7 linked regions of the Homo sapiens genome follow. The protein of the gene in region 5 purifies or fractionates together with the protein of the main gene of each other region. This does not show direct contact. Each region holds a gene or a part of one and is shown on either strand. Other genes may lie near its edges. The genes, in order: TMOD3, ANAPC7, PPP1R12A, ANAPC1, NEK2, CAPZA2 and DTD1.

Evidence for each region.
Region 1: the proteins of NEK2 (region 5) and TMOD3 purify together in Homo sapiens (affinity purification with mass spectrometry, with the first as the bait; one large-scale study listed by BioGRID). This does not show direct contact.
Region 2: the proteins of NEK2 (region 5) and ANAPC7 purify together in Homo sapiens (affinity purification with mass spectrometry; 3 studies listed by BioGRID and IntAct, with this or other methods). This does not show direct contact.
Region 3: the proteins of NEK2 (region 5) and PPP1R12A purify together in Homo sapiens (affinity purification with mass spectrometry, with the first as the bait; one large-scale study listed by BioGRID). This does not show direct contact.
Region 4: the proteins of NEK2 (region 5) and ANAPC1 purify together in Homo sapiens (affinity purification with mass spectrometry; 3 studies listed by BioGRID and IntAct, with this or other methods). This does not show direct contact.
Region 6: the proteins of NEK2 (region 5) and CAPZA2 purify together in Homo sapiens (affinity purification with mass spectrometry, with the first as the bait; one large-scale study listed by BioGRID). This does not show direct contact.
Region 7: the proteins of NEK2 (region 5) and DTD1 purify together in Homo sapiens (affinity purification with mass spectrometry; 2 studies listed by BioGRID and IntAct, with this or other methods). This does not show direct contact.

The regions. Positions count from the first base shown.
Region 1 is NC_000015.10:51,832,653-51,836,152, forward strand, and holds part of TMOD3 (tropomodulin-3), read left to right. Parts: intron 1-3,500. UniProt on the Homo sapiens protein: Blocks the elongation and depolymerization of the actin filaments at the pointed end. The Tmod/TM complex contributes to the formation of the short actin protofilament, which in turn defines the geometry of the membrane skeleton.
Region 2 is NC_000012.12:110,379,709-110,383,208, forward strand, and holds part of ANAPC7 (anaphase-promoting complex subunit 7), read right to left. Parts: intron 3,253-3,500; coding exon 3,135-3,252; intron 2,241-3,134; coding exon 2,044-2,240; intron 1-2,043. UniProt on the Homo sapiens protein: Component of the anaphase promoting complex/cyclosome (APC/C), a cell cycle-regulated E3 ubiquitin ligase that controls progression through mitosis and the G1 phase of the cell cycle.
Region 3 is NC_000012.12:79,925,098-79,928,597, forward strand, and holds part of PPP1R12A (protein phosphatase 1 regulatory subunit 12A), read right to left. Parts: intron 1-3,500. UniProt on the Homo sapiens protein: Key regulator of protein phosphatase 1C (PPP1C). Mediates binding to myosin. As part of the PPP1C complex, involved in dephosphorylation of PLK1. Capable of inhibiting HIF1AN-dependent suppression of HIF1A activity.
Region 4 is NC_000002.12:111,874,194-111,877,693, reverse strand, and holds part of ANAPC1 (anaphase-promoting complex subunit 1), read left to right. Parts: intron 1-3,500. UniProt on the Homo sapiens protein: Component of the anaphase promoting complex/cyclosome (APC/C), a cell cycle-regulated E3 ubiquitin ligase that controls progression through mitosis and the G1 phase of the cell cycle.
Region 5 is NC_000001.11:211,665,622-211,669,121, forward strand, and holds part of NEK2 (serine/threonine-protein kinase Nek2), read right to left. Parts: coding exon 3,492-3,500; intron 1,611-3,491; coding exon 1,485-1,610; coding exon of another isoform or gene 1,441-1,484; exon of another isoform or gene 796-1,440; intron 1-795. UniProt on the Homo sapiens protein: Protein kinase which is involved in the control of centrosome separation and bipolar spindle formation in mitotic cells and chromatin condensation in meiotic cells.
Region 6 is NC_000007.14:116,900,587-116,904,086, forward strand, and holds part of CAPZA2 (F-actin-capping protein subunit alpha-2), read left to right. Parts: intron 1-2,731; exon of another isoform or gene 2,732-2,857; intron 2,858-3,500. UniProt on the Homo sapiens protein: F-actin-capping proteins bind in a Ca(2+)-independent manner to the fast growing ends of actin filaments (barbed end) thereby blocking the exchange of subunits at these ends.
Region 7 is NC_000020.11:18,594,554-18,598,053, reverse strand, and holds part of DTD1 (D-aminoacyl-tRNA deacylase 1), read right to left. Parts: intron 2,049-3,500; coding exon 1,813-2,048; intron 1-1,812. UniProt on the Homo sapiens protein: Possible ATPase involved in DNA replication, may facilitate loading of CDC45 onto pre-replication complexes. An aminoacyl-tRNA editing enzyme that deacylates mischarged D-aminoacyl-tRNAs.

The sequences.
Region 1 (3,500 bases), on a different chromosome or scaffold from region 5:
AAGACCCTGTCTCAAAAACTAAAACAAAAGAGAAAATCAATTATATCTGAGCAATATCACAGGGAGGATGAGAGGCTTTGCGGATAAAAGTATACCTGGATAGAGGGAGGGAGAAAGATAAAGAGGAGGATCCAGTAAACAGTAGAGGAAAAAAAGGCTTTTAGTAAGGTTTTCTGGTGTCAGTCTGATGTATACTGATATTTAGGCTGTGTTGTAGCTGGCAAACTACTCTTCACACTTTTCAGTTGCTCTTTAATATGCATGAGCTCTCTCGATTAGAGTAGATGAGGAGGGCATTATTCTCTAGGCCGTGTGGCTAAAGCGCTATCATCCCTTGGTCATTGATAGTCCTTGCTGACATTTGATTTACATGCAGTTTTATGTCAGATCCTTTAAAATCACAAATATATGGAGAGAAAAATGGTATAGACAATAGAATATTCTACTGGGCCTATAACTGGTCCATTAAGTGCTTATTTAAATTGTAAACAATCAAATTTAATTTGGTGTTTATAAAAAATTATGTATGTGAACATACATTCTGTTATCTATATGTGTCTGTAATCCATTAGCTTATTTACAATGATCAAAGAATAGAAGTGTGAATAAATCAGAATGGCACATGATTGAAAATGCTGTGTAACTGAAGATGCATTTGTGTAGTCTTGAATTTCATTTGAAACAAAATTGTTAGTCTGTATCTTGAAGCACATTGCTACTTTGTATTTTTATTGATGTATAATTAACATTCAATAAAATGCACATAATATCCAGTTCAAGGAGTTCTGACAATTGTATACACTGTAACTTCTACCAAAATCAGATAGAAAACATTTTTTTTAAGTCACCCTAGAAAGTTCCCTCACCCACCTTCCTCCAAAGGCAATCACTTCCTGACTCCATAGATTTCTGACACTACAGAGATTTTTTGACTGGTCTTGGACTTCACATAAATGGAATCATACAGCATGTGCTTTTTTTGTGTTTGGCTTCTTTCATGTAAGAAAGATTCATCTATGTTGTTGGCAAGTATCAGTGGTTTGTCCTTTTAAGTTGTTGAATAGTATTCCATTGTATGAATGTACCCCAATTTATATTTTCTCCTTGATGGATATTTGGAATAAGATTGTTATGAACATACTTTTACAAGTTTCTTGATAAATACCTAGGAGCAGAGTTACTGAGTCATAGGGTATGTGTATGTTTAACTTTATTAAAAATCTGCCAAACAGTTCTCCAAAGTGGTTTATACTGAGTTCTACTTGCTCCGTATTTTTAGTGTTGCCAATGTTTAGTATTGTCAGCCTTTTCAATTTTAGTCACACTACAGGATGTATGGTTGTACCTCATTATGGTTTTAATTTACATTTTTCTGATGATTAAGAATGTTGAGTGCTTTATCATATGTTAATTGGCTATGCAGTATCTTTTTTTGTGAATTGTTTGTTCAAGTCTTACCTAGTCTTTCATTGGGTCATTCATCTTTTTATTGTTTGTAGGAGCTCTTTATATATTCAAGGTACAAGTTCTTTGTCACATATAGAGATAGATGTGTTGACAGTTTTTTTTTATACAGTCTGTCCCTTGTCTACTTTCTCAATGATATTGTGATGAGCAGAAATTTTTAATTTTTATAAAGTCTGTTTTATCAATTTTTTGTATTATGGCTAGTGTTTTTTGTCCTGACCAATAAATTTTTACCAGTGCCCAGGATTGCAAAGAAAGCTTTTTCTTCTAGAAACTTTATTTTTCTAAGTTTTTCATTTGAGTCTGTGATTGATCTCAAAGTAATTATTATTGTGTTATGATATAAGATAGGAGTTTGGGTTCATTTTCCACCTATATAGATATCTAGTTGTTCCAGCAACATAGGTTTAAGAAAAACTTCCCTTTCTCGGCCAGGCACAGTGGCTCACACCTGTAATCCCAGCGCTTTGGGAGACCAAGGCAGGCAGATCATTTGAGCCCAGGAGTTTGAGACCAGTCTGGGCAACATGACAAAACCACATTTCTACTAAAAATACAAAAATTAGCCGGAAGTACTGGCATGCACCTATAATCCCAGCTACTTGGGGGGCTGAGGCAGGAGGATCATCTGAGGGAGGTGGAGGCTACAGTGAGTTGTTATCATGCCACTGCACTCCAGCCTGAGGGCCAGAGTAAGACCCTGTCTCAAGACAAAACAGAACACATCTCTTTTTTGTTTGTTTTTCTCCATTAGATTGACTTGGCATCTTAGCGTGTCAGCTGAGCTACTTTGCATTTTAGTTGTGCTTATATTGTCAGTTTCTTAAGCACGGACCCTGACCTTAAAAATTAAATGTTTATGCTCCTCTTCCAGATTGGGACTTGACTGAGATTGATCCAGGGCTAGTTACCATGTATTTCCTGATGGAAGAATGTTAAGTATGAATTTGAATTTTAAATGGCTTTTCTGTGGGTCGAGTTAATGGAGACAACCTCATTTTAGAAGCAATTGCATCTTCCTTATAAAATAGGCAGATGTTTAGAATGAAGGAGATGTAAGCAAGGAAAGATCACCTAGGACTCCAACATAGCAAGCTATAGGGAGCTTAATATTTCTTGTTTATTGGCTTGATCTAAATAGATGCAATTATATATAAGCCATGTGTTTTAGTTTCCATCTTTTTCTGTTTTGTTTTGTTTTGAGACAAGGTCTCAATTTGTCACCCAGTTTGGAGTGCAGTAGTGTGATCTTGGCTCACTGCAGCCTCGACCTCCTGGGCTCAAGCAGTCCGTCAGCCTCAGCCTCTCAAGTATTAATAGCTGGGACTACAGGCATGCACCACCATAACTGGCTAATTTTTGTATGTTTAGTAGAGATGGAGTTTCATCATGTTTCCCAGGCTGTCCTTGAACTCCTGAGCTCAAGCAAACTGCTCACCTTGGCATCCCAAAGTGCTGGGATTACAGGCGTGAGCCACCACACCCAGCCTTAGTTTCCATGTTTCTACTCCATTGTCTATTCCAATCCTTTGTGATGCAATTTCTGAATTTGCCTTGGAACAATTTTTAGGGAGACAGTTTGGTTATTTTTTTCTTCTAAGTTTATTTGCTGATAATACACTAAGTTTTAAAAAGAATGTCACCCCAACCTCATTATTCTTATGTAGCTATTTTTACTTTTCCTCATTTCTTTCCAGGCCTGATTCATTCTCATACGTATTTTTATATGATTGTAATCATAGTGTGCATATTGTTTTTTGTTCAGAGATTGAGTTGTAACTAGTGAATGCTGTCTCCCTTAGGTAGATCACCCTTGTTAGTAAAGACAAAGATTAGAGATGGAGAAAAGACAACTGGGGACTTACCAGTGAGGAGTCTTGAATCCTAAAGCTTAACTAAAATAGAAGCAGAAAAAAGCTAAGATTTTCAAAGACAGGATTACCTTTCTGTGGAAATGCAGGACAACTTTGGTTTCCTTATTCATTCCTTCCCCCTTTCTCTAACATATAACAGCTTTAGTGAGATATAATTCG
Region 2 (3,500 bases), on a different chromosome or scaffold from region 5:
AATTTGAACTCATCTTCCTGTTAAGAGCAAATCACTCCTAGACTCCTAGGTTTATTTTTAAATGCTTATAAAAATATGTTTTGGAGGAACTGCATCTTGTAAGATCTATTTTAATGTCTGTGACTGAGTCACCAAACGTTGCTGAAACTGGCACAGCTCCTTTGAACTCCCAGGGTCAATTCACATGAACTTAAAATATTACATAACAAAACAAAGTTGGACCCTGATTGTGCCCACTCTGGAGGTCACAATGAACAGACCCATTCCCACAGCCAACACTATCATATGGATGTGGAGTTATCCCACGAGTACTAACTCTGGCCCAAGGTAAGATGGCCACGAAAAAGAATAGGCCTAACAGGCCATGTACAGTGGTTCACGTCTGTAATCCCAGCACTTTAGGAGGCTGAATTGGGCAGATCACTTAAGCCCAGGAGTTCGGGACCAGCCTGGCTAACATGGCGAAACCCCATCTCTACTAAAAATACAAAAATGAGCTGGGTGTGGTGGTGTATGCCTGTAATCCCAGCTACTCAGGAGGCTGAAGCAGGAGAATCACTTAAACCCGGCAAGTGGAGGTTGCAGTGAGCTGAGATTGCACCACTGCACTCCAGCCTGGGTGACAGAGTGAGACTCTATCTCAAATAAAAATAAAAAAAATAGGCCGGTTGTGGTGGCTCATGCCTGTAATCCCAGAACTTTGGGAGGCCAAGGCAGGCAGCTCACGAGGTCAGGAGTTCGAGACCAGCCTGGCCAACATGGTGAAACTCCATCTCACTAAAAAATACAAAAATTAGCTGGGTGTGGTGGTGGGCGCCTATAATCCCAGCTACTTGGGAGGCTGAGGCAGGAGAATGGTTTGAACCCGGAAGGTGGAGGTTGCAATGAGCCAAGATCATGCCACTGCACTCCAGCCTGGGTGACAGGGCGAGACTCTGTCTCAAAAAAAAAAAAAAAAAACAGGACCCGGGCACGGTGGCTCACGCCTGTAATCCTAGCACTTTGGGAGGCCGAGGCGGGCGGATCACGAGGTCAGAAGATTGAGACCATCCTGGCTAGCACGGTGAAACACTGTCTCTACTAAAAATACAAAAAATTAGCCAGGTGTAATCCTAGCTACTGGGGAGGCTGAGGCAGGAGAATGGCATTAACCCGGGAGGTGGAGCCTGCAGTGAGCCGAGATCATGCCACTGCACTCCAGCCTGGGCAACAAAGCGAGACTCTGTCTCAAAAAAAAGAGGAGTAAGAGAAAAAAAATAGGCAAACTAAGTGATCTTGCATGGTGTCTGACACAGAGAGATTCATATTAATGAGTACGCCACACTGGATGGGGGCGAGCGGTGGGAGGACAAAAAAAAAAAACCCCATCCCAACTATACCCTCACCAAAAACCAGAAAAAAAATCAGAAAAAATGGATTATGAAAGTATGGGGTGACAAATCCAGTGAAAGCCCTAAATAAATGTAAAATGCCTAATGCAGTGGTTCCCAAACCTGTCTGCACATTGGTAACCCCTGGGGACCTCCAAAAATATCGATGTCTATTCCCAATTCCATGTATTTCCATCTACACTGGAGAGACCCAACGTCAGGATATTGAAAAGCTTCCCCGGATGATGTTTTTTTGTTGTTGTTGTTGTTGTTTTAATAGATGGAGTCTTGCTCTGTCGCCAGGCTGGAGTGCAGTGGCGCAATCTTGGCTCACTGCAACCTCCGCCTCCCAGGTTCAAGTGATTATCCTGCTTCAGCCTCCCAAGTAGCTGGGACTACAGGTGTGAGCCACCATGCCCAGCTAATTTTTGTATTTTTAGTAGAGACGGGGTTTCACCACGTTGGCCAGGATGGTCTCAATCTCTTGACCTCATGATCTGCCCGTCTCGGCCTCCCAAAGTGCTGAGATTACAGGTGTGAGCCACCACGTCCGGCCAGCTTCCCCAGATTATTCTAACAGAGTTTGGGAAGTGCTGGCCTAATGAAACCTTCCATCTGAGGGCTGCTGCCACACCCACGGATTCACACCATTCACCTATGTTTTCTTTCTTACCTTCATAACAATCTAAGCGACAAGGTGCGAGCCGTATGGCCTCCCGAAAGTGGATTATTGCTTCTTGGACTCTGCCCATGTTCCTAAGTGCTGCTCCCTTAAGTAGCAGAGCTTGAACACTATTACTGTTCAGCTGAATGGCCTTGGCTCCTAAATAGAGGGCCCGGGAGTAGCGTTTGCTATAGAAGCTGTGACAGCTGGAGAAAAAAAAAAAAAAAAAAACACAAAAACCCCAGAAGTTATCCAAGAGAAGACTACAAAGAAAGTTGATCCAAAAATCATATTGAAGGCCCTGAACATAATCCTTATTCCAAACCACACTTATAGTTTTAACCTAAGATATTAGTAGAAAAGCAAAACAAACCAAAAAATCCACTATTTATTTTTAAGGGGAAATCTTGATATGGAAGAGAAAAATTATGAAAAAGAACCTATGATCTGGATATTAGTTATTAGCAGAGAGGCATTCAGAGAATTTGTAAAGCCAGGTTAATAAACAAAGGAGCATCTTCTGGCCCCATCACTGATGGCTCAGTACTAAGCACAATGCATTCACCAACTCAGTTAATGCTTAACCCTAGAAGGAGAGGTTATTAGCCCATTTTCCAAATGAGAATACAGACCTAGATAGGTAAATAATGCATCCAGAGTCATAAACTATTATTTGAATCCAGGGCTGATTATCCTTTTAAAAAAAAAAAAAAAAAAAAATATATATATATATATATATATATATATATATATTTATAGAGACAGGGTCTTGCTACATTGCCCATGCTGGTCTCAAATTTCTGGCCTCAAGTAATTACCTCTTTTTATTTTTATTTATTTATTTTTGAGACAAAATCTCACTCTGCCGCCCACCTGGAGTGCAGTGGCACGATCTTGGCTCACTGCAACCTCTGCCTCCTGGGTTCAAGCAATCCACCTGTCTCAGTCTCCCAAAGTGTTGAGATTACAGGCATGAGCCACCATGCCTGTCCAGGTGATTACCTCTTAAACCTGTGCTTTCAATTTATATTCTCTTCAAGAGCAACCATTATCTCTTAATCTACTGACAACTGGGGAGAAAAGAGAATGCATAATCATACCCAGAAACCACCCACGGTTCTGCATGCTGATCAGAGATATTGAAAAGGCGGCATCCAAGGTTCTCAACATCCTCTAGCCGCCCTTCTCGTGCCAGTAGGTAGCCATATACATCCATTCCTAGAAGAGAAGGACATAGTGAGAAGAGGTGTTTTAAGAAGAGAAGCAGGGGTCCCACATACAGGAGTAGCACCCAACATCAGACCCCATGCTGAGGCCCCAGCTCCTGCAGGGGCTAAGCCCTTTCCACCATCACAGGCTCCTCCAACTACTATTTCCAGTTTCCTACAAAGTGACTATTAAAATGCAAAACCCAGGTTGGGCACAGTGGCTCACACCTGTAATTCCAGCACTTTAAGAAGCCGAGG
Region 3 (3,500 bases), on a different chromosome or scaffold from region 5:
ATGTTCTGGAGCTGAAACTCCAACAGAAAAGCTCTAGAAGTGTTCCATGCAAGAATATAAATATTCAAATAAGTTTATAACCATCTAAAACAATTTTGAAGGCTAATAAAATATATATAATTTGGGATGTTTATTACAAGTAAAGGTTGAGTGCATACGTGTACGTGTGTGTGTGTGTGTGTGTAACAGTCCATGAAAATATACTTTCCCACATGGTTATTAATCTTTAAGAGGGTGCCAAGTGACATCTCACAAAATGTATTCTCCTCTGCACTATGCAGTATTCAAGAAAATGACATGAGCTTTGTACAATCTTATGATTTTATTGTTAGAGGTCATGTTAAACTAAGAAAATAGTAATTTCAGCTCAAATGTGAGTTAAATCATCAAGTTAAAGTAAAGCTTTTTATTAAGTGAAGCTCTCTCTGCAGAATATCTCACTTAATATACATAACATTTAAATAGACTACTAAAAAAGTGACAGCTGAGGAATGCTTTCACTTCTTTCCATGGTTTCTACTGAATGTCATTTCAGAAATGCCTATACAACACATGACAATGTGGAATGTCTCCTCCCATGAAAGAGCATTTGAGTTGAGCAGCAAGCACACTTAGGGCAGTAACACAGAACTCAAGCGTGTCTTTTTATGGTTAGCCAGCATAACAATGCAAAGATAAACAACCAAAACACTAATAAGGTCAGAAAATACTGACATAGAGGGAGCCATAGTAAAAATGTTATTTGGAAAAAAAAAGTATCAGTAAAATAACAGAAAATATGCATTATTTCTAATATTACCATGCTAGAGATTTCTTTTCTTTTTCTTTCTTTTCTTTTCTCTTTATTGGTAGAGACACCGTCTCCCTATATTGCCCAGGCTGGTCTTGAACTTCTGGGATCAAGTCTCTTGCCTTGGCTTCTCAAAGTGCTGGGATTACAGGTGTGAGCCACTGCATCCAGCCTAGAGATTACTTTTCTAAATGAACACTCAAGGATTTGTTTAAAGAATTTTTAAACTAAGTTACATAAACTGAAGCGTCTATTGATAATCAGTAATAGATCTCATTTCAAAAATAAATCTAACATCCCAATAATTTTTTTCTTTAAGACAGAATCTCGCTCTGTCGCCCAGGCTGGAGTGAAGAGGCATGATCTCAGTTCACTCCAACCTCTGCCTCTTGGGTTCAGGCGATTCTCGTGCCTCAGCCTCCTGAGTAGCTGGGATTACAGGCATGCGCCACCATGCCTGGCTAATTTTTATTTTGTATTTTTAGTAGAGATGGGGTTTTGCCATGTTGGCCAGGTTGATCTCAAATTCCTGAGCTCAGGTGATCCGCCTGCCTAGGCCTCCCAAAGTGCTAGGACTACAGGCGTGAGCCACCATACCCAGCCACCTAATAAATGTTTTGATTGTAATAATGGCTACCTTTACATTGTAAGTATTATAAAAGTAAGTGGTTGATATAAGCTTTTTTATTAGGACATTTTAAAAGTTTGTCAGTGTGTTACACTTACCCAATTATTTAATATTCTATGAATTCTGCTCTTCAAAATATTAGTTTACATTGTGTCCAATTTTTTTTAATCATTAAATATTTATTGTGTACCTACTAAAACAAAATGCCGATACAAAAGGAGATTTAAAGAAAAAAAGAATCAAAGTCCCTACCTTAAGGGTATATAAGGGACTTCTTCCCCCCCACCCCCAGTATCCATGGTATGAAGTTTCCTACAATTTGTCTCTAAAAAGAATCAAATATGTACATGTACGTATGTATAAAAAATTTACTGTAAATGATTAAAAAAAACTAAAACAGGCTAAGTGCAGTGGCTCACGCCTGTAATCCCAGCACTTTGGGAGGCTGAGGTGGGAGGATCACTTGGGCCCAGAAGTTTGAGACTAGCTTGGGCAACACGGGGAGACTCTGTCAAAGAAAAAAAAAAATTAGCTGGAAGTGGTGGCACATGCCTGTATTCCCAGCTGATCGGGAGGCTGAGGTGGGAGGATCACTTGAGCCCAGGAAGGCTACAGTGAACTATGTTCATGCCACTGCACTCCAGCCATGGTGACAGAGTCTGTCACCCTGTCTCAAAACACACATACACACACCACACCCACACACACACCCAACAACTGAAACGATATAAATTGCTATTAGGGTAAAGAAAAATAAAGGTAGTTAAAAATTAAATTCTATGTCCTGAAAAAAGGAGTGTTTCTTGTTGCTGCTGATATATTCTGCACATAATGGTAAGTCAAAAATAATCTTGGCACTTCCTAAAATTTAGGACAATTTCGAATTCTGAGATTAATTTAGATACAGTACTACTGCACTTCAATTACCATAGAAAGGTCTTAAAAGTATGGGCTAGCTAAAACAAATGTGGATGAAGAAAAAAATTATATGTGTGTTTCACTTGATTTTCAGCTAATTTACAGAGAAACCTCCAATTACTAAACACCACCATAATGATGAAAAGATTTAAGAATATTTTCTTCTTCAGACTTCAAAGAAGATACCTGGCATAGGGTAAAGTTTGAGTTTCGGCATCAAACAGACCTGCATAAGAATTCCAGCTCTGCCATTTATTTTCTTGTTAACTTTGAGCAAGTGAAAAAGCATGTTGTGAAAATTAAACTATTGTTTGGAAAAGCACTGCTCCTCAATAAAACACTGATTAAGTCATGGCTACTACATATCTGACTCCAACTGAGAATAAACTTATAATTGTTGGAGTTCTTCAACCTTTCAAAGAGGTATACCAAAATGCCAATACCTCATCATCTTCTCAACCTTATTGTGGAGCCCCACAAACTTTCAAAAGAAGGGTGGAGTAAAAGATGGCAATTTTTTGCAGGCAGAGGCAATGAAAATAGCAACTTCATATAGTGTCAAGAAGTAACATGTTATGGTAGTAACAAAACAACGTTTTATGCCTCCCCCTATTAAAAGGTTTTTAAATAGTTTTCTTTTAAAAATCATCTAATAAGATTTTTAAAACACTTTTCTTATGTGAACTGTAATTTTTAAATGTGGTAATAACAAATGGATGATGAAAAACACTTCCTCTATTCCATCCAGTGTTTCTACCTGGCTATAGAAAATGCTCAGTCACAGCTTGCAATCATACTGTAGCTGAGGCACATGAAAGATGGTCTTGGTTATGACACCTCAAAGTCAGACCACAAAAGTGTTGCCAGGAAGCACAGAGGCAGCAACTACAGAAAAAGCATTAGAACAGCAGCAGTGTGGGCACTGGTGCCCTACCAGCACACCCCATATATGGCTAGGGTTGCCCACTTATTTGTAGGAAGTGAGGGGCCAGTTTGGGGTTGGGAGGGTTTTATTTGTTTGTTTAGGTAGGTTTTTAAAAATGGATTTAGGATGATTTCAATAAAAACTTTTGAAAGGCATGAGCATAAAGTGTTACAGCTTTTCTAAAAAGAAAACTATGCAGAGAAATATTTTACACTGCACATTCTTTTAGACACAAATTT
Region 4 (3,500 bases), on a different chromosome or scaffold from region 5:
TCCCGCCTCACCCTCCCGAGTAGCTGGGACTGCAGTTGCCCGCCACCACACCCGGCTAATTTTGTTTTTATATTTTTAGTAGAGCTGGGGTTTCACTGTGTTAGCCAGGATGGTCTCGATCTCCTGACCTTGTGATCTACCCACCCACCTCGGCCTCCCAAAGTGCTGGGATTACAGGCGTGAGCCATCATGCCCAGCCAAGCTTGATAATTATTAAAACTGGCTGATGGGGATTCATTATCCTATTCTGTTTACTTTGTATTTATTTGAAATTTTCCATTATAAAAAGTTTATAGTCTACATTCTGGTTTCTTTAAAAAAGTCACGGAGAAAGAAAAAAAGGTGGGGACTGTTCTACATTGAAAGAGACTAAAGAGACATCACCAAATGCAGTATTTTTTGATCCTTGTTAAATGAACTTTGATTGAGTCCTGGTTTTCTAGCTAAAAAGATATTTTTGGGGAAAATTTGGGAAAGTTGAAAATTACTGGCCAGTAGCTGATGTTAGAGAAGTATTATTTTTTTCTCAGGGACGATGATTTTATGGTTTTATAGGAGAACATCTTTATTTTTAGAAAAGGCATGGTGAAGTATTTAGGGGTGAAATGTCATGATGTGTGTGCAATTTATTTTTAAACAGTCAGCATTCCCATTCCGAAAATCCCATATGTACACAAATGCACACACACAAACAAATATGGCAAAATTTTCATGATTGTTGGATATAGGTGAAATATGTTTGCTGCATTATTTCAACTTTTCTTACTGAAAATTTTTATAACAAAAAGTTGGAGGAAGAACTAATGCATTTATTGTAGTTGAATTAGGGTTGACGAGGTTTTGGAGGCTTTGACTAATGTTAAGTTTCATTTTTGTAAATGCTGAAATCTTTGTATCTGGATACTGCTTCCTCCCACTCCTCCCGCCTACCGTTAACTATTTCCTGATGAGTACTGTATTCTATTTATTGGAAAGGATAAACTGAATCATTATTCCAACATTTGAGGGCATATGTGAAAGCATTTGTGTCCTGGAGTGTTGAAGCCAGTGATCTTTTTGATGGTAAATTTTTTCCCATATAATTCATATAGTTAGTATAGATGTGAAAAGTGCATTTGATGATATCCAAGTAGTTCTTTGCTTCTATATCTTCATCTTAATTTCTCCAAGAACAGTTGCCTATTTACTAGATTCTATGGAAGTGCAGTTAGATATATTATCTCCTTTATCTTAAGATCACTTGTAAGTGTAATTGTAAGATTTGGAATTTCAGTCTTTTGATCTGGAAAATATATTGTTACTTAATCTTCTTGCTAATATGGAGAAAGATAATTTTCTATTTTGTTTATGAAATAATATCAGGTATATGTGACTCAGATTTTATCTGTTCATTGTTTTACCTATCCTGCAAGTATTTTTTTTTTGGTTGTTCTTTTTATTTTTTCATTTATTCTTTTTGTTTTTTAATAGAGATGGGGGTCTCACTATGTTGTCCAGGCTGGTCTTGAACCCCTGGGCTCTAGTGATCCTCCTGGCTTGGCCTCCTAAAGTGTTGAGATTACAGGCGTGAGCCACTGTGCCTGGTCTTCTGCAAGTATTTAGTCTCACTCTGTTTCAGCCATTATGCTGGGGCTACAAAGGTGAATGTAGTTTCTGCCATTGAAGGACTCATAGCCTAGAAAGGAGAACAAACAGATCACCTGAAATGCTGTATTCTGAATGCTGTATAATAACTACCTGTCCACAGAGTGATGAGAGCCCAAAGGACTGAGTGCCAAAGGGAGGGTTTTTCAAAGAAGATGCTATTTGTGTTATAAAATGGTGGCAGAAGGGCATTCTAGGCAGAGGAAATCACAGCAAAAAGAATTATGGAAAAAGATGACTTTTTAAACTTCAGAATGGCTGTACACGAAGTGTGGGTGTGGAGAGATGCAAGTGGATGCTGGCAGTATACAGACCAAAGGGCCTTGTATATAAACCAAGGAATTTGGATTTTAAACTGTGTGCTGAAGGGAGCCTGCCAAGGATTTTAAAATGGAAGCGATCAATTTTGTGTTTTGAGAAGAGATTGCTTTGTTAGCAATATATATATAGGATTGACTGGAGAGGAGGGAGACTGTTGTCAGGGGCACTATTTTGTGACTGTTCAGGTAAAAGATTGGTGCCTTGGCAAAGAAGGGGTGATAAAGCAGAGGGAGATGTGGAAGGGGTTAGTGATCTCTTAGATATCAGGGATAAAAGAGATGTTAAAATATTTACTTTTAGAGGCTGAGAGGATGGGATTTCATCAAAGGAAGTTGAGACTGTAATCGGTGCATTGTAGATTTTGGACATTTCAGGTTGGAGCACAGCTCTCATGCATGGTTTTCTTCCTGAATTTTCATTTCTTAACCATTAAAATCTCCCACAACTCAACAATAAAACAAACTACCCAATTAAAAAATTGGGCAGAAGGACTTAAATGGACATTTTTCTAAAGATGCACACATGGTCAGTAAGCACATGAAAAGATGCTCAGCTTCGCTAATCATTAGGCAAATGCAGATTACAACCACAATGAGATACCACTTTACTAGGTTGGCTGTTATTAAAGAAACATAACAAATGTTGGTGAGGATGTCCAGAAATTGGAACTCCTGTGCATTGCTGATGGGAATGTAACATAGCTGCTGTGGAAAAGTTTGGCGATTTCTCAAAAAGTTACACGTGTAGCCAGGCATGGTGGTGCATGCCTGTACTCCCAAGCTGTTCAGGAGACTGAGGCAGGGGGGTCATGTGAACCCAGGAGTTCTAGGCTGCTGCGAGCTAGAATCATGCCTTGCATTGCAGTTTGGGTGACAGAGTGAGACCCCATCTCTTGAAAGAAAAGTTATACTTAGAATTACCATTATGATCCAGCAGTTCCAGTTCTAGGTATATGCACAATTGAATTGAGAACAGGGATTCACAGATACTTGTACACCAGTGTTTTCAGCAGCATTATTTATGATAGCCAAAAGGTAGAAACAACCCATGTCCATTGACAGATGAATGGATAAACAAATGTGGTATATGCTAACAGTGGAATATTGTTTAGCTTTAAAAAGGGATAAAATTCTGATACATGTCATAACATGGATGAACCTTGAAAACATTATGTTAAGTGAAATAAAATAGATATAAAAGGACAAATGTACAGTTTCACTTACATGAGATACCTAGCACAGGCCCTTTCATAGGGAAAGTGGAATAGAGGTTACCAGAGCTCAGGGCATTGGGAAATGGGGAGTATTGTTTAATGGGCACGGAGTTTCTGTTTGAGATGAGGAAAAAGTTCTGGAAATGTGCAGTATTGTACAAGCTCACAAATTGTACTAAGCTCGTCAATTTAATGTTAATGCTACTGAATTGTCTACTTAAAAATTGTTAAAATGTTAATTTTCATATTGTGTGTATTTGACCACAGTTTAAAAAAAAACACAAAATGCTGTTAAATAATAAGTGATTGCCAGGTATGTCAG
Region 5 (3,500 bases):
GACAGTGTGGAATCTATGAAAAGCCAGAATAAATATTTTTATAATATTGAAATGGTAGACTGCAATATTGGGAAAAAAGAAGGTATTTTAACAGAGATGAAGCCAAAGTTTCATATAATCCTTGTTTCATTTACTTCTATCAGTAGTTTCATTTCTTTCCATCACTTATTCACTACAAAGTTATTGTGATCATCAATCTAACTTAAGTAGGGTTTTTTGTCTGTTCCATTTACAAAATGCTGCCAATGCTCACTAAATTGATCACACTACATCTCAATTTATTAAAGATGGGAATAATAGCTTTCATATATGCTGTCCTACATGGAATAAGGGAGTTATAAAAACTCTAAATTTTATTGAAAATTCAGATGCTCGATTTTTGAAACCAACAACTTTTAACAGTTAGTTTGTGTCATAAATCAAGCAAAAAGATGTTTCACAGTTTGCATTTTACATAATCTTAAAGAGTCGATTAAATTAGATTGAGGGTTTCTATAAAATGGAGAATGTTAGACAATGGTTCACTGGTATATACGATAACCACATCTCAGTGCGGCAGAGTGAAGGGACAATGCCACACAAAGGCAGGGCCCTGAGAAAGCTGAATATCTATATACCAGACTTTAAATAAAGAAGGAAATGCAGAGAACATATGTAGATATTAAACAATCAAATTTCAACAAATATGTCTTTCAACTTGAAAGGGTGTTAGCAAAGATCCAAACGTGACAGCCTATTCTGCAGGTGGCTTATCATGCCTTTTAAGCCATGCTTTCTATGAAAAATGAGGCATGGCAATATTAAAATGTTTATTTTTACTTGAAATGCAGTTTATCTCTCTGAAATCTGAAACATACAATAGTTTTGTAAATGCCCTAATTTTTAAAAATAAGTATCGGCTGGGCACGGTGTCTCATGCCTGTAATCCCAGCACATTGGGAGGCCGAGGCAGGCGGATCACGAGGTCAGGAAATCGAGACCATCCTGGCTAACACGGTGAAACCCCGTCTCTACTAAAAATACAAAAATTAGCCGGGCTTGGTGGCGGGTGTCTGTAGTCCCAGCTACTTGGGAGGCTGAGGCAGAAGAATGGCGTGAACCCGGGAGGCAGAGCTTGCAGTGAGCCGAGATTGTGCCACTGCACTCCAGCCTGGGCTACAGAGTGAGACTCCATCTCAAAAAAAATAAAAAAATAAATAATGATAATAAAAATAAGTATCAATTACTAAACATGTAGTTTGATAAGGTAAAGAAAATCAAACATGAAATTCTATGACTCATTGCCTCAGGTCTATGAACCCAGGAAATAAATCATTGCTATAACAGAATTTTGTTTCCATTGAAATGCATATATTCAATGAAATCCATCTTAAAATTTGAGATTTGTAAATGAAAAGGGCTACCTAAGCCACTTTGGGAGCAACACTGGTGCACATTTCTTCATTTGTAGCACCAGCTTCTGTTGACCAAGTTGATTCTCATACCTGGATTACTTGCCAGAGACAGGAACTTCCGTTCCTTTAGCAAGCTGTAGTTCTTCAACAGATTTTCTGCTCTAGCCAGTTTGTCCTCTGCTAGTCTCTCACGAACACAAAGCTCCTGTTCTTTCTCTTTAAAAAGAGAATGGACAAAGAAAAAAAAATTAACAACTGACCTTGACTAAAAAACAATTTACATTTGGCAATCTTATCACTACTAGCATGCCTGATACTGATAAGCAATGTTTGGGGAAAGGATTCTCACTATGCCTCAGTCAACCTGATTATGTTAGTTTTTAATTGAGTGTTTTAGTAGGCTGTATGTTATCTTAGATTTTCTTGAAAGGACTTGTTTAAACAAATACAAAGTTAGCTTCAACCTTTGGTCATCTTTTGTGGGAGTAACTCATTTGGGAAAACAAAAAACTAAAGCTATCTCTGCTCTTCACTGAAGATAAGCAACAGCTAATTTTCAGGGCATGATCTGGCCTCACAGTACAAAAATCTCCTTCTTCTGGTTGAATGACCACACCCAAACAAAAGAAAAAAAACACAATTCAGTTAGGTGGTAGTTCATAGGATTAGTATTAATAACAAATGTTACTATTTATTCATGGCCCCAAATTCAGAAAGTATTCAGATTTCAGTTGCTATATGAAATTATGGCTGGTCACAGTGGCTCACGCCTGTAATCCCAACACTTTGGGAGGCCGAGGCAGGTGGATCACCTGATGTCAGGAGTTCAAGACCAGCCAGGTCAACATGGCAAAACCCCATCTCTACTAAAAAATCAAAAATTAGCCAGGCATGGTGGCAGGCGCCTGTAATCCCAGCTACTCAGGAGGCTGAGGCAGGAGAATTGCTTGAACCCGGGAGGTAGAGGTTGCAATGAACCAAGATGGTGCCACTGCACTTCAGCCTGGGCAACAAGAGTGAAATTCCATCTCAAAAAAAAAAAAGAAAAGAAATTATGAAACACTGGGGAAAGTTATAAGAAAAAGCTTTCTTATTTTTTACAGAGGTTTCCAAGTAAGTATAGGTTGTACCTATACAGTAAGCATATCTCACAGGACTATACAATATTTCATTATTTAAAGCCTGGATTGGGCATAAAGCTGCAGAAGTAAAATCAGGTGAGTCATGAGGGTGACAGGTCACAAATACGACCCCATCTCTCGTCTCCTGATGTTAAAATGAAGAACCTCACTCTGTAGCTACCTTGCATAACCCTAAATGCTTGCGAGTAGCTCTCATCTTGGTGGAGTAGACACACTTTCAATATCAAAACTAAATTAGCATCTAATCAGTTAATACTCATAAGTCAATGTTAATACCCACCAGAGTATTATTTATAGACTTAAAATATCTTGTATCTAGATTCTCTATTGAACTGCCTGAACAGACCAGGTGTGGTAGGTCACACCTATAATCCCAGCACTTTGGGAGGTAAGATGGGAGGATCACTTGAGCTCAGGAGTTCAAGACCAGCCTGGGTAATATAGTGAGACCCCATCTCATTTTCAAAAATAAAAAGTTAAAAAAAAAGAAAAGAATTGCCTGAACATATCTCATCTACATACTGTAGGGTTTTAGACCTGGAATTCTGTTGGAGTGGCCATTTCAAAAGACAAAAGTCATGGTTTTTTATTATGGAAAGCAGCAATTTTAAGACCTTCCTTTACAGTGGGAAAACATTAGGGTATTCACAGTAGAGACGAAAAAGAAAAAAGTAACTCTAGAGTAAAATACAAGGCTATCGTATTAGGGCCATCACAGTTAAGGCCCAATAATATATAACTAGCAACTGATCTCAGAGAAAGATGTCCAACATGAAGGTGCCAGCAAGCCTGATTATTAAAAAGTCTAAAATACATATTTTGGTTTCTCAAGTATTTTTCAAAAGCTTCTAATAAGATCTGTATGTATAAAATATTCTGCTCAAAGAGATATTCAGACACATCAAAATAACCCACTTGGTAGTTCTCCTTTGCTTTGACCCCCATTCAGACTTACGCTCCAATC
Region 6 (3,500 bases), on a different chromosome or scaffold from region 5:
GAATAAGCTTCATCAAAAAAAGGCATACGATTATGAAGAAAATAGTGACGGTCTTCTCAAGCAACAAAAGCAAAAACTGACACATGGGATATAATTAAAGAGCTTCTGCACAGCAAAGGATACTATCAACAGAGTAAACAGACAACCTACAGAATGGGAGACAAATTTTGCAAATTATGCCTCTGACAAAGGTTTAAATCCAGCATCTATAAAGAACTTAAATTTAAAAGATAAAAACAAGCGCATTAAAAAGTGGGCAAAGGATATGAACAGACACTTTTCCAAAGCAGACATACTTGAGGCCAAACAAGCATATGAGAAAAAAGATCACCATCACTGATAATTAGAAAAATGCAAATCAGAACCACAATGAGATACCATTTCAAACCAATCAGAATGGCTATTATTAGAAAGTCAAAAAATAACAGATGCTGGTGAGGTTACGGAGCAAAAGGAATGCTTATACACTGTTGGTGGGAGTGTATATTCAACTATTATAGAAGACAGTGTGGCGATTCCTCAGAGATCTAAAAACGGAATTACCATTTGACCCAGCAATCCCATTACTGGTTATATACCCAAAGGAACAGAAATCATTCTATTATAAAGAAACATGCTCACATATGTTCATTACAGCACTATTCACAATAGCAAAGACGTGGAATCAATCTAAATATCAGTGATGATAGACTAGGTGAAGAAAATGTGGCATATATACACCATAGAATACTATGCAGCCGTGAAAAAGAACAAGCTTTATGTCCTTTGCAAGAACATGGATGGAGCTGAAGGCCATTATTCTTAGCAGACTAATAAAATATCTTAGCAGAAAATCAAATATCACATGTTCTCACTTATTAGTGGGAGATAATGATGAGAACACATGACACATAGAGGGGAACAAAACACACTGGGACCTATCAGAGGATGAAGGGTGGGAGGAGGGAGAGGATCAGGAAAAATAACTAATGGGTACTAGGCTTAATACCTGGGTGATGAAATAATCTGTGCAACACCTGCATGACACAAGTTTACCTATATAATAAACCTGCACATGTACCCCTGAACTGTTAAGAAAGAAAATAGTGATACTCTTCTTGAAACACATAAAACAGGATCTGACCAATGGAAAGGTGCTCTACATTCCATTCTTAGATAGAAAATTAAATTATTTTAAAAGTAATGTATGGATTTGATGAAATTTGAATTAGAATCCTGATCAGTTTTTTTTTAATTGGTCAATATTTTCATAAAGTTTATGTGGAAAAAAAAACATGCTTGAAATAACGAAGAAATGTGTGTGTGTGTGTGTGTGTGTGTGTGTGTATGTGTGTATATATATATATGTATATATTTATGAAAAAACCATTAAGCACAATGAGGGAGAATTGCCTTACCAGATAGTACAAGTTGTTTTACAGCCAATGTTAAGTCAATGTGGTGGTGTATGGAGTAGACAAAAAATCATTAGAGCAGCATGGAGAACCAGAATTTAGTCTCAGAATATATGAAAAATTTTATACAGATATTGGCATAACTGGTTTCTATAAGAAGAAAATTAAGTTGGACCTCTGTCACATACAGTATACAGAAATAGATTTCAGGTGGTTTTAAAATGTGAAAAGTGGCTAACATTTTAGAAGAAAATCTGAGTCTACATGTGCAATACAGGGCTAGGGAGACCATCTTAAATAACACTGGATACCCAGGAAGTATAAAAGATGGACATTTTACTATAAATGTTTTTAACTGTAGAATGAAGCCTATCTTAAAGAACTCTTATAAATTGATAAGAAAAAGACACCAGATAAAAATATTTTATTATATTTGCTCACAGAAGAGCAAATGACCCACAAATGTGAAAAGCCATACTTAGTTTTATCAGTAGTCAGTGGAATTAAAATGATATATTTTCTACCATCAGACTAAAAAAAGAGCTATAGTGCCTATCATTGGTGGTAATATGGATGGAAACATACTCTCATATATGTGTAGAAATTTGGATTGTCACAGGAGTATATATTAAAAATTATAATACCTGATGTCCCTACCACCACTGCTTGGGAATTTATTCAATAGAAATAAAAGGATCCAATGGAAATAAAAACATCAGTATGTTAAAATATATGTACAGCAATACTCATTTCACCTTTTTTGTTGTTGTTATTGAGTCAGGGTCCTGCTCTGTCACCCAGGCTGGAGTGCAGTGACACAATCACAGCTCGCTGCAGCCTCAATCTCCTGGGCTGAGTAGCTGGGACTACAGGCACATGCCACCACGACTGACTAATTTTAAAAAATTTTTTTGTAGAGATGAGGTCTTACTATGTTGCCCGGGCTGGTCTCAACCTCCTGAGCTGAAGCTATCCTGCCCCCTTGGCCTCCCAAAGCACTAGGATTACAGGCATGAGCTACCACACCCAGTCTTATTTCACCATTTTTAATGTGTTCCTCCTTTCCCCGAAAAAGGAAACAGCCCAGAAATAAAGAGATGGCACATCAGTAGTGGATTGGCAGACTAAATTATGTTATAATCACGTCATGGGACATTATGCAGCCATTTAAAAGAATGGTGAGAAATATATCACTTGACTTTGAGGGATTTCCATAGGATGTTTATATTGAAAGAAGCCAGATGCAGAGAAGAGTGTGTGTGTGTGTGTGTGTGTGTGTGTGTGTGTGTGTACGTACACACACACATTTTCATTGCATTCTTATAAAATAATGACCAGTCGCTTCTCGGCCTTTTGGCTAAGATCAAGTGTAGTAAAATAATGACCAAAAAATTCTGTGTGTATGCAAGTATAGACATGTGTATATCTTTATCTGTAAGATTTTATGACTATGAAAAAAAATTTAGAAAGGTATATCCTGTGTTGTTAGCATGATATATATCAGAGGGATGGATAAGTCCCGACATAGCTAAGGAGTCAAAGACTGGAAGAATTACAAGAGAAGGAAAAGGGGAAATTTTTTAAATAAAGCACAAAATATCAGATTATACATTATGCATTGTGGATGTATTATTTAAATTTATGGAAATGAAGTATGTTTTTAAATACTTGGAAGTCAATTAAAATCAGTTGTCAATGTAGTTTTTAAGAAGCAAGAAACAGATACGTCAAAGTAGGTAAGACTGTGGGCCCAGAGGCAAGGTGGGGGACACACCAAAGAGGATTTGCACCAGACCAAAGCCATTCAGGTAACCACCCTGATTGGAGGTTCTCACAAGTTCTGTAGTTTTGAGGAACTGGAGTCTGATACCAGACATTGTAAACTGTTAGAGTTCTCAAAGCAGAAAACCCACCAAACCCACTTGAACAGTGTTTTTAGAGGTTGCATTTTTTTTCACCAGTAGCTGGAAGTTATATTGGGAGAAAATCTGATCTGCACTGGATGAGAGTAATGTCATTGTCTGTATAGTCAACTCATTTGAAGTATTAATAGTTGTACCATATGGTTAAAATATATGCTTGGAGTAGGATTGTTTTATAGTTTTA
Region 7 (3,500 bases), on a different chromosome or scaffold from region 5:
AACTGCACGTTCTGCACATGTACCCCAGAACTTAAAGTATACTAATAATTTTTTTACAAAAAAAGACAAAATGTTGGGAGAAAAGAACTGTCAAGCTAGGATTCCATGCCCAGCTAAGCAATCATAAAGAATTAAGGCAAAATAAAAACATTTTAAAACCTACAATGACTATGTTCCACTAACACATTCTTAGTAAACAACTGATATATCATAGAATGTACTTCAGAAAGAAGAGCCCAAAGAAGGAAGCAAGACAGGTTGGTGACCACAGAAATTGATAAAATATATTATCAAATACAGCCAGTTACAGATTATAAATAAATTATGATTAAAAGTGATTATGATTATGATGAAAAGAAAAGTGGCAACATGGATGAACCTTGAAAACATTATGCTAAGTGAAAGAAGCCAGGAACAAAACCACACATTATATAATTCCATTTACATAAAATGTTCAGAATAGACAAATCTAAAGAGACGGAAAGTAGATTAATGGCTGCCTAGGACTGGGGCAACAAAGAAGAGAGTGGGAGTAGGCTAGTACTGTTGATGAGTACAGGATTTCTTTTAAGTGGGACAAAAGTGTTATAAAATTAGATTGTGGCAATGGTTGCACAACTCTTAACTAAAAAAATTGACTTGTACACTTTAAATAGGTGAATTGTACAGTATGTGTATTATATCTTAATAAAGTCATTTTAAAAAGTGGAACTAGAAAGGAAAAGGGGATGTTCAAATATACTAAGATCCTTATAAATTTTGATAGAAATTTTTGTAACTATTCATGAATGTTAAAAACTTAGAAATAACCATTAGGAGAACAAAAACACCATCTATAGCTCCTTCTCTCTATACACACACACACACACACACACACACACACACACACACACACACACTTTCTCTCATCTACTAAAAGAGAGAGTCTATGAGACTAGGTCAAAAAAGCTTATTGAGAAGCCAGAACAGAAAAAGAAACAAAATCATAAAAATAAAATAAAAAATATTCTGTATGATACTGTAATGGTAGACACATGTCATTATAAATTTGCCCAAACCCAGAGAATATTAGAGTGAACCCTAGTGCCAACAGGAGACTGTGGGTGATAATGATGTGCCATGAACAACAGTTATAATCCAACAATGAACTTAGGTTCATCAGTTGTAACAAATGCACCACTCTAGTGGTGGATGTTGATAATGAGTGAGCCTATGCATGCGGGGGCAGAGATATATGGAATATCTCTGTACCATCCTCTCAATTTTACTGTGAACCTAAAACTGCTCTAATCAAATAAAGCCTTTATTTAGAAAAAAAAAAAAGAGAATGTAAACTACCTCATCATTGTTTATAACGACTACATAGTAAAATCATATTTTGAATATATTCAGTTAAATAAAATATATTTTTTAAATTAATTTCACCTATTTCTTTTTATTTTTTTAAATATGGCTACAAGAACTTAAAATGACATATTTGGCTCACATTTGAGGCTTGCACTATACTTCTATTGGACAGGGCTAAGCTAAACAATCAAAGAAATACCACTGTATTAGCCACACCTCTGGGTTCCCAAACATTTTCAAAATGTGAACAGAAGAAGGGAGGAGGGCAAATGCCAGCAGAAGCATTCTGAGGACATGTGTTAAGTACAACAGCAGCAATAGCAGCAGCTAGTATGTGGTTCTAAGTAAGTAACAAGCATAAACAATGACTTTCCAGAAAAGGAGATGCTGCAGTTGCAGCTTCTTTTTTCTCTCCATCCAGGAGTGTCCCAAAGACCCGTTCCTGGATGTGGCTCTCCTGCTTACCTTTGATAAGCTCCGGCCTGTATGTTTTACGCAGCTGCTCCAGGAAGCTGTTGTAGAAGCCCTCTGCCTGCTCCGTGGGCATTGCTAGGTGGAAATCAGGCTTGTTTCCCTTCAGGACACACTGGAGGGTAAACTGGCTGACACACAGAATCTCGTACTGTTTGTCCATCACACTCTTCGACCAGTGCTTCCCACTCTCATCCTCAAATACACGCAGGTTTAGAATCTTTCGGACCCTAAGGGGAAAAAGAGCAGTGAGAGCTACCTGAGAGATCACAAGCCCCCCAACACACTCCATACCCCAAAAATGTCACCAGCTTCCGGTCAAATAAGGACATAATGATGACTCCATCCCTGACAGGAGGCATGACCTCAGGCAAGTCACTTATCCACCCTGTGCTTCAGTGTCCTCAGCTGCGATACAGAATAATAACAGTTCTACCTCACACGGTTGTTTTGAGATTGCTTCTTTTTTGCCAGTCGCTCCAGTTCATAGCAGCTACTGGTGAGAACTGGGGCTAAGATGACAACCACCTATTCTCTGCTCCTTTAGGTCGGGGATATGTCAAAACATGGGTCCAATTGTAATTTTTCATGAACGAATTCATCATGTTAGGATAAATGACATCCATTTTTAAACCCCTTCTTGGAGCTACTCAAAATGAACAATTCGGCTGAGAACGGTGGCTCATGCCTGAAATCCCAGTACTTTGGGAGGCCACAGTGGGTGGATCACCTGAGTTCAGGAGTTCAAGACCAGCCTAGCCAACATAGAGAAACCCCATCTCTACTACTAAAACTACAAAAGTTAGCCAGGCATGGTGGCGGGCGCCTTTAATCCCAGCTACTCAGGAGGCTTAGGCACAAAAATCGCTTGAACCAGGGAGGCAGAGATTGCAGTAAGCTAAGATTGCACCACTGCACTCCAGCCTGGGTGACAGAGGGAGACTCTGTCTCAAAAGAAAAAAAAAAGAAAGAACAATTCAGCAAATACACTGAGAGAAAAATCATGGTTATTGCAAATATGCAAAAAGATCTGGAGAAAGACACCTTGAAAACTATGTCACAAGCTCCTTAAGCCCCAGAGGGGCTTTCCCTATACATGTGAAGAAGGATAGTCACCATGGCAAGAAAGTTGACCAGGTGACATCTATAGGGTCAGATTTGAGAAGCACAGCAGAGAACCACCAGCATGAAAGCTGAAATCTCACCATTTGAGAGCCACCCTTCTGGATGATGTTAAGTAGATGACAGTTTCAAAGACTCTATAAATACTAATTAACTGACTCTTAATATGGGCACCCTCAGGGACAGGTGCTACTCATTACCCCCTCTCCACAGCCAAGATTTGTCTTATGTTGAATCACATCTCTTAAGCACCAGGCTAAGTATTAGCTCTGTAGTATGTCAGAGCCATAAAGACATTCAAACCCACAGCCTCAGTTTTTAGCCATTACACCACTCTACCACTTCTTTGAGTATCCAGAGGACAGCTACTAAAATACCACCATCACTGAAATAGTATTGAATGATAGTTATCCATCATCAACACCTTAGCAGGAATTCAGTTTCAAGTCTGATTTTCAATCTAACACAAAAGAATCAGTTGGGCAGGGTTATACCCAAGCTCTGAGCACCAAGGGGCAGAATAAATGGATCCAGCATCTAAAGTAAATGTGCCCCGTGGT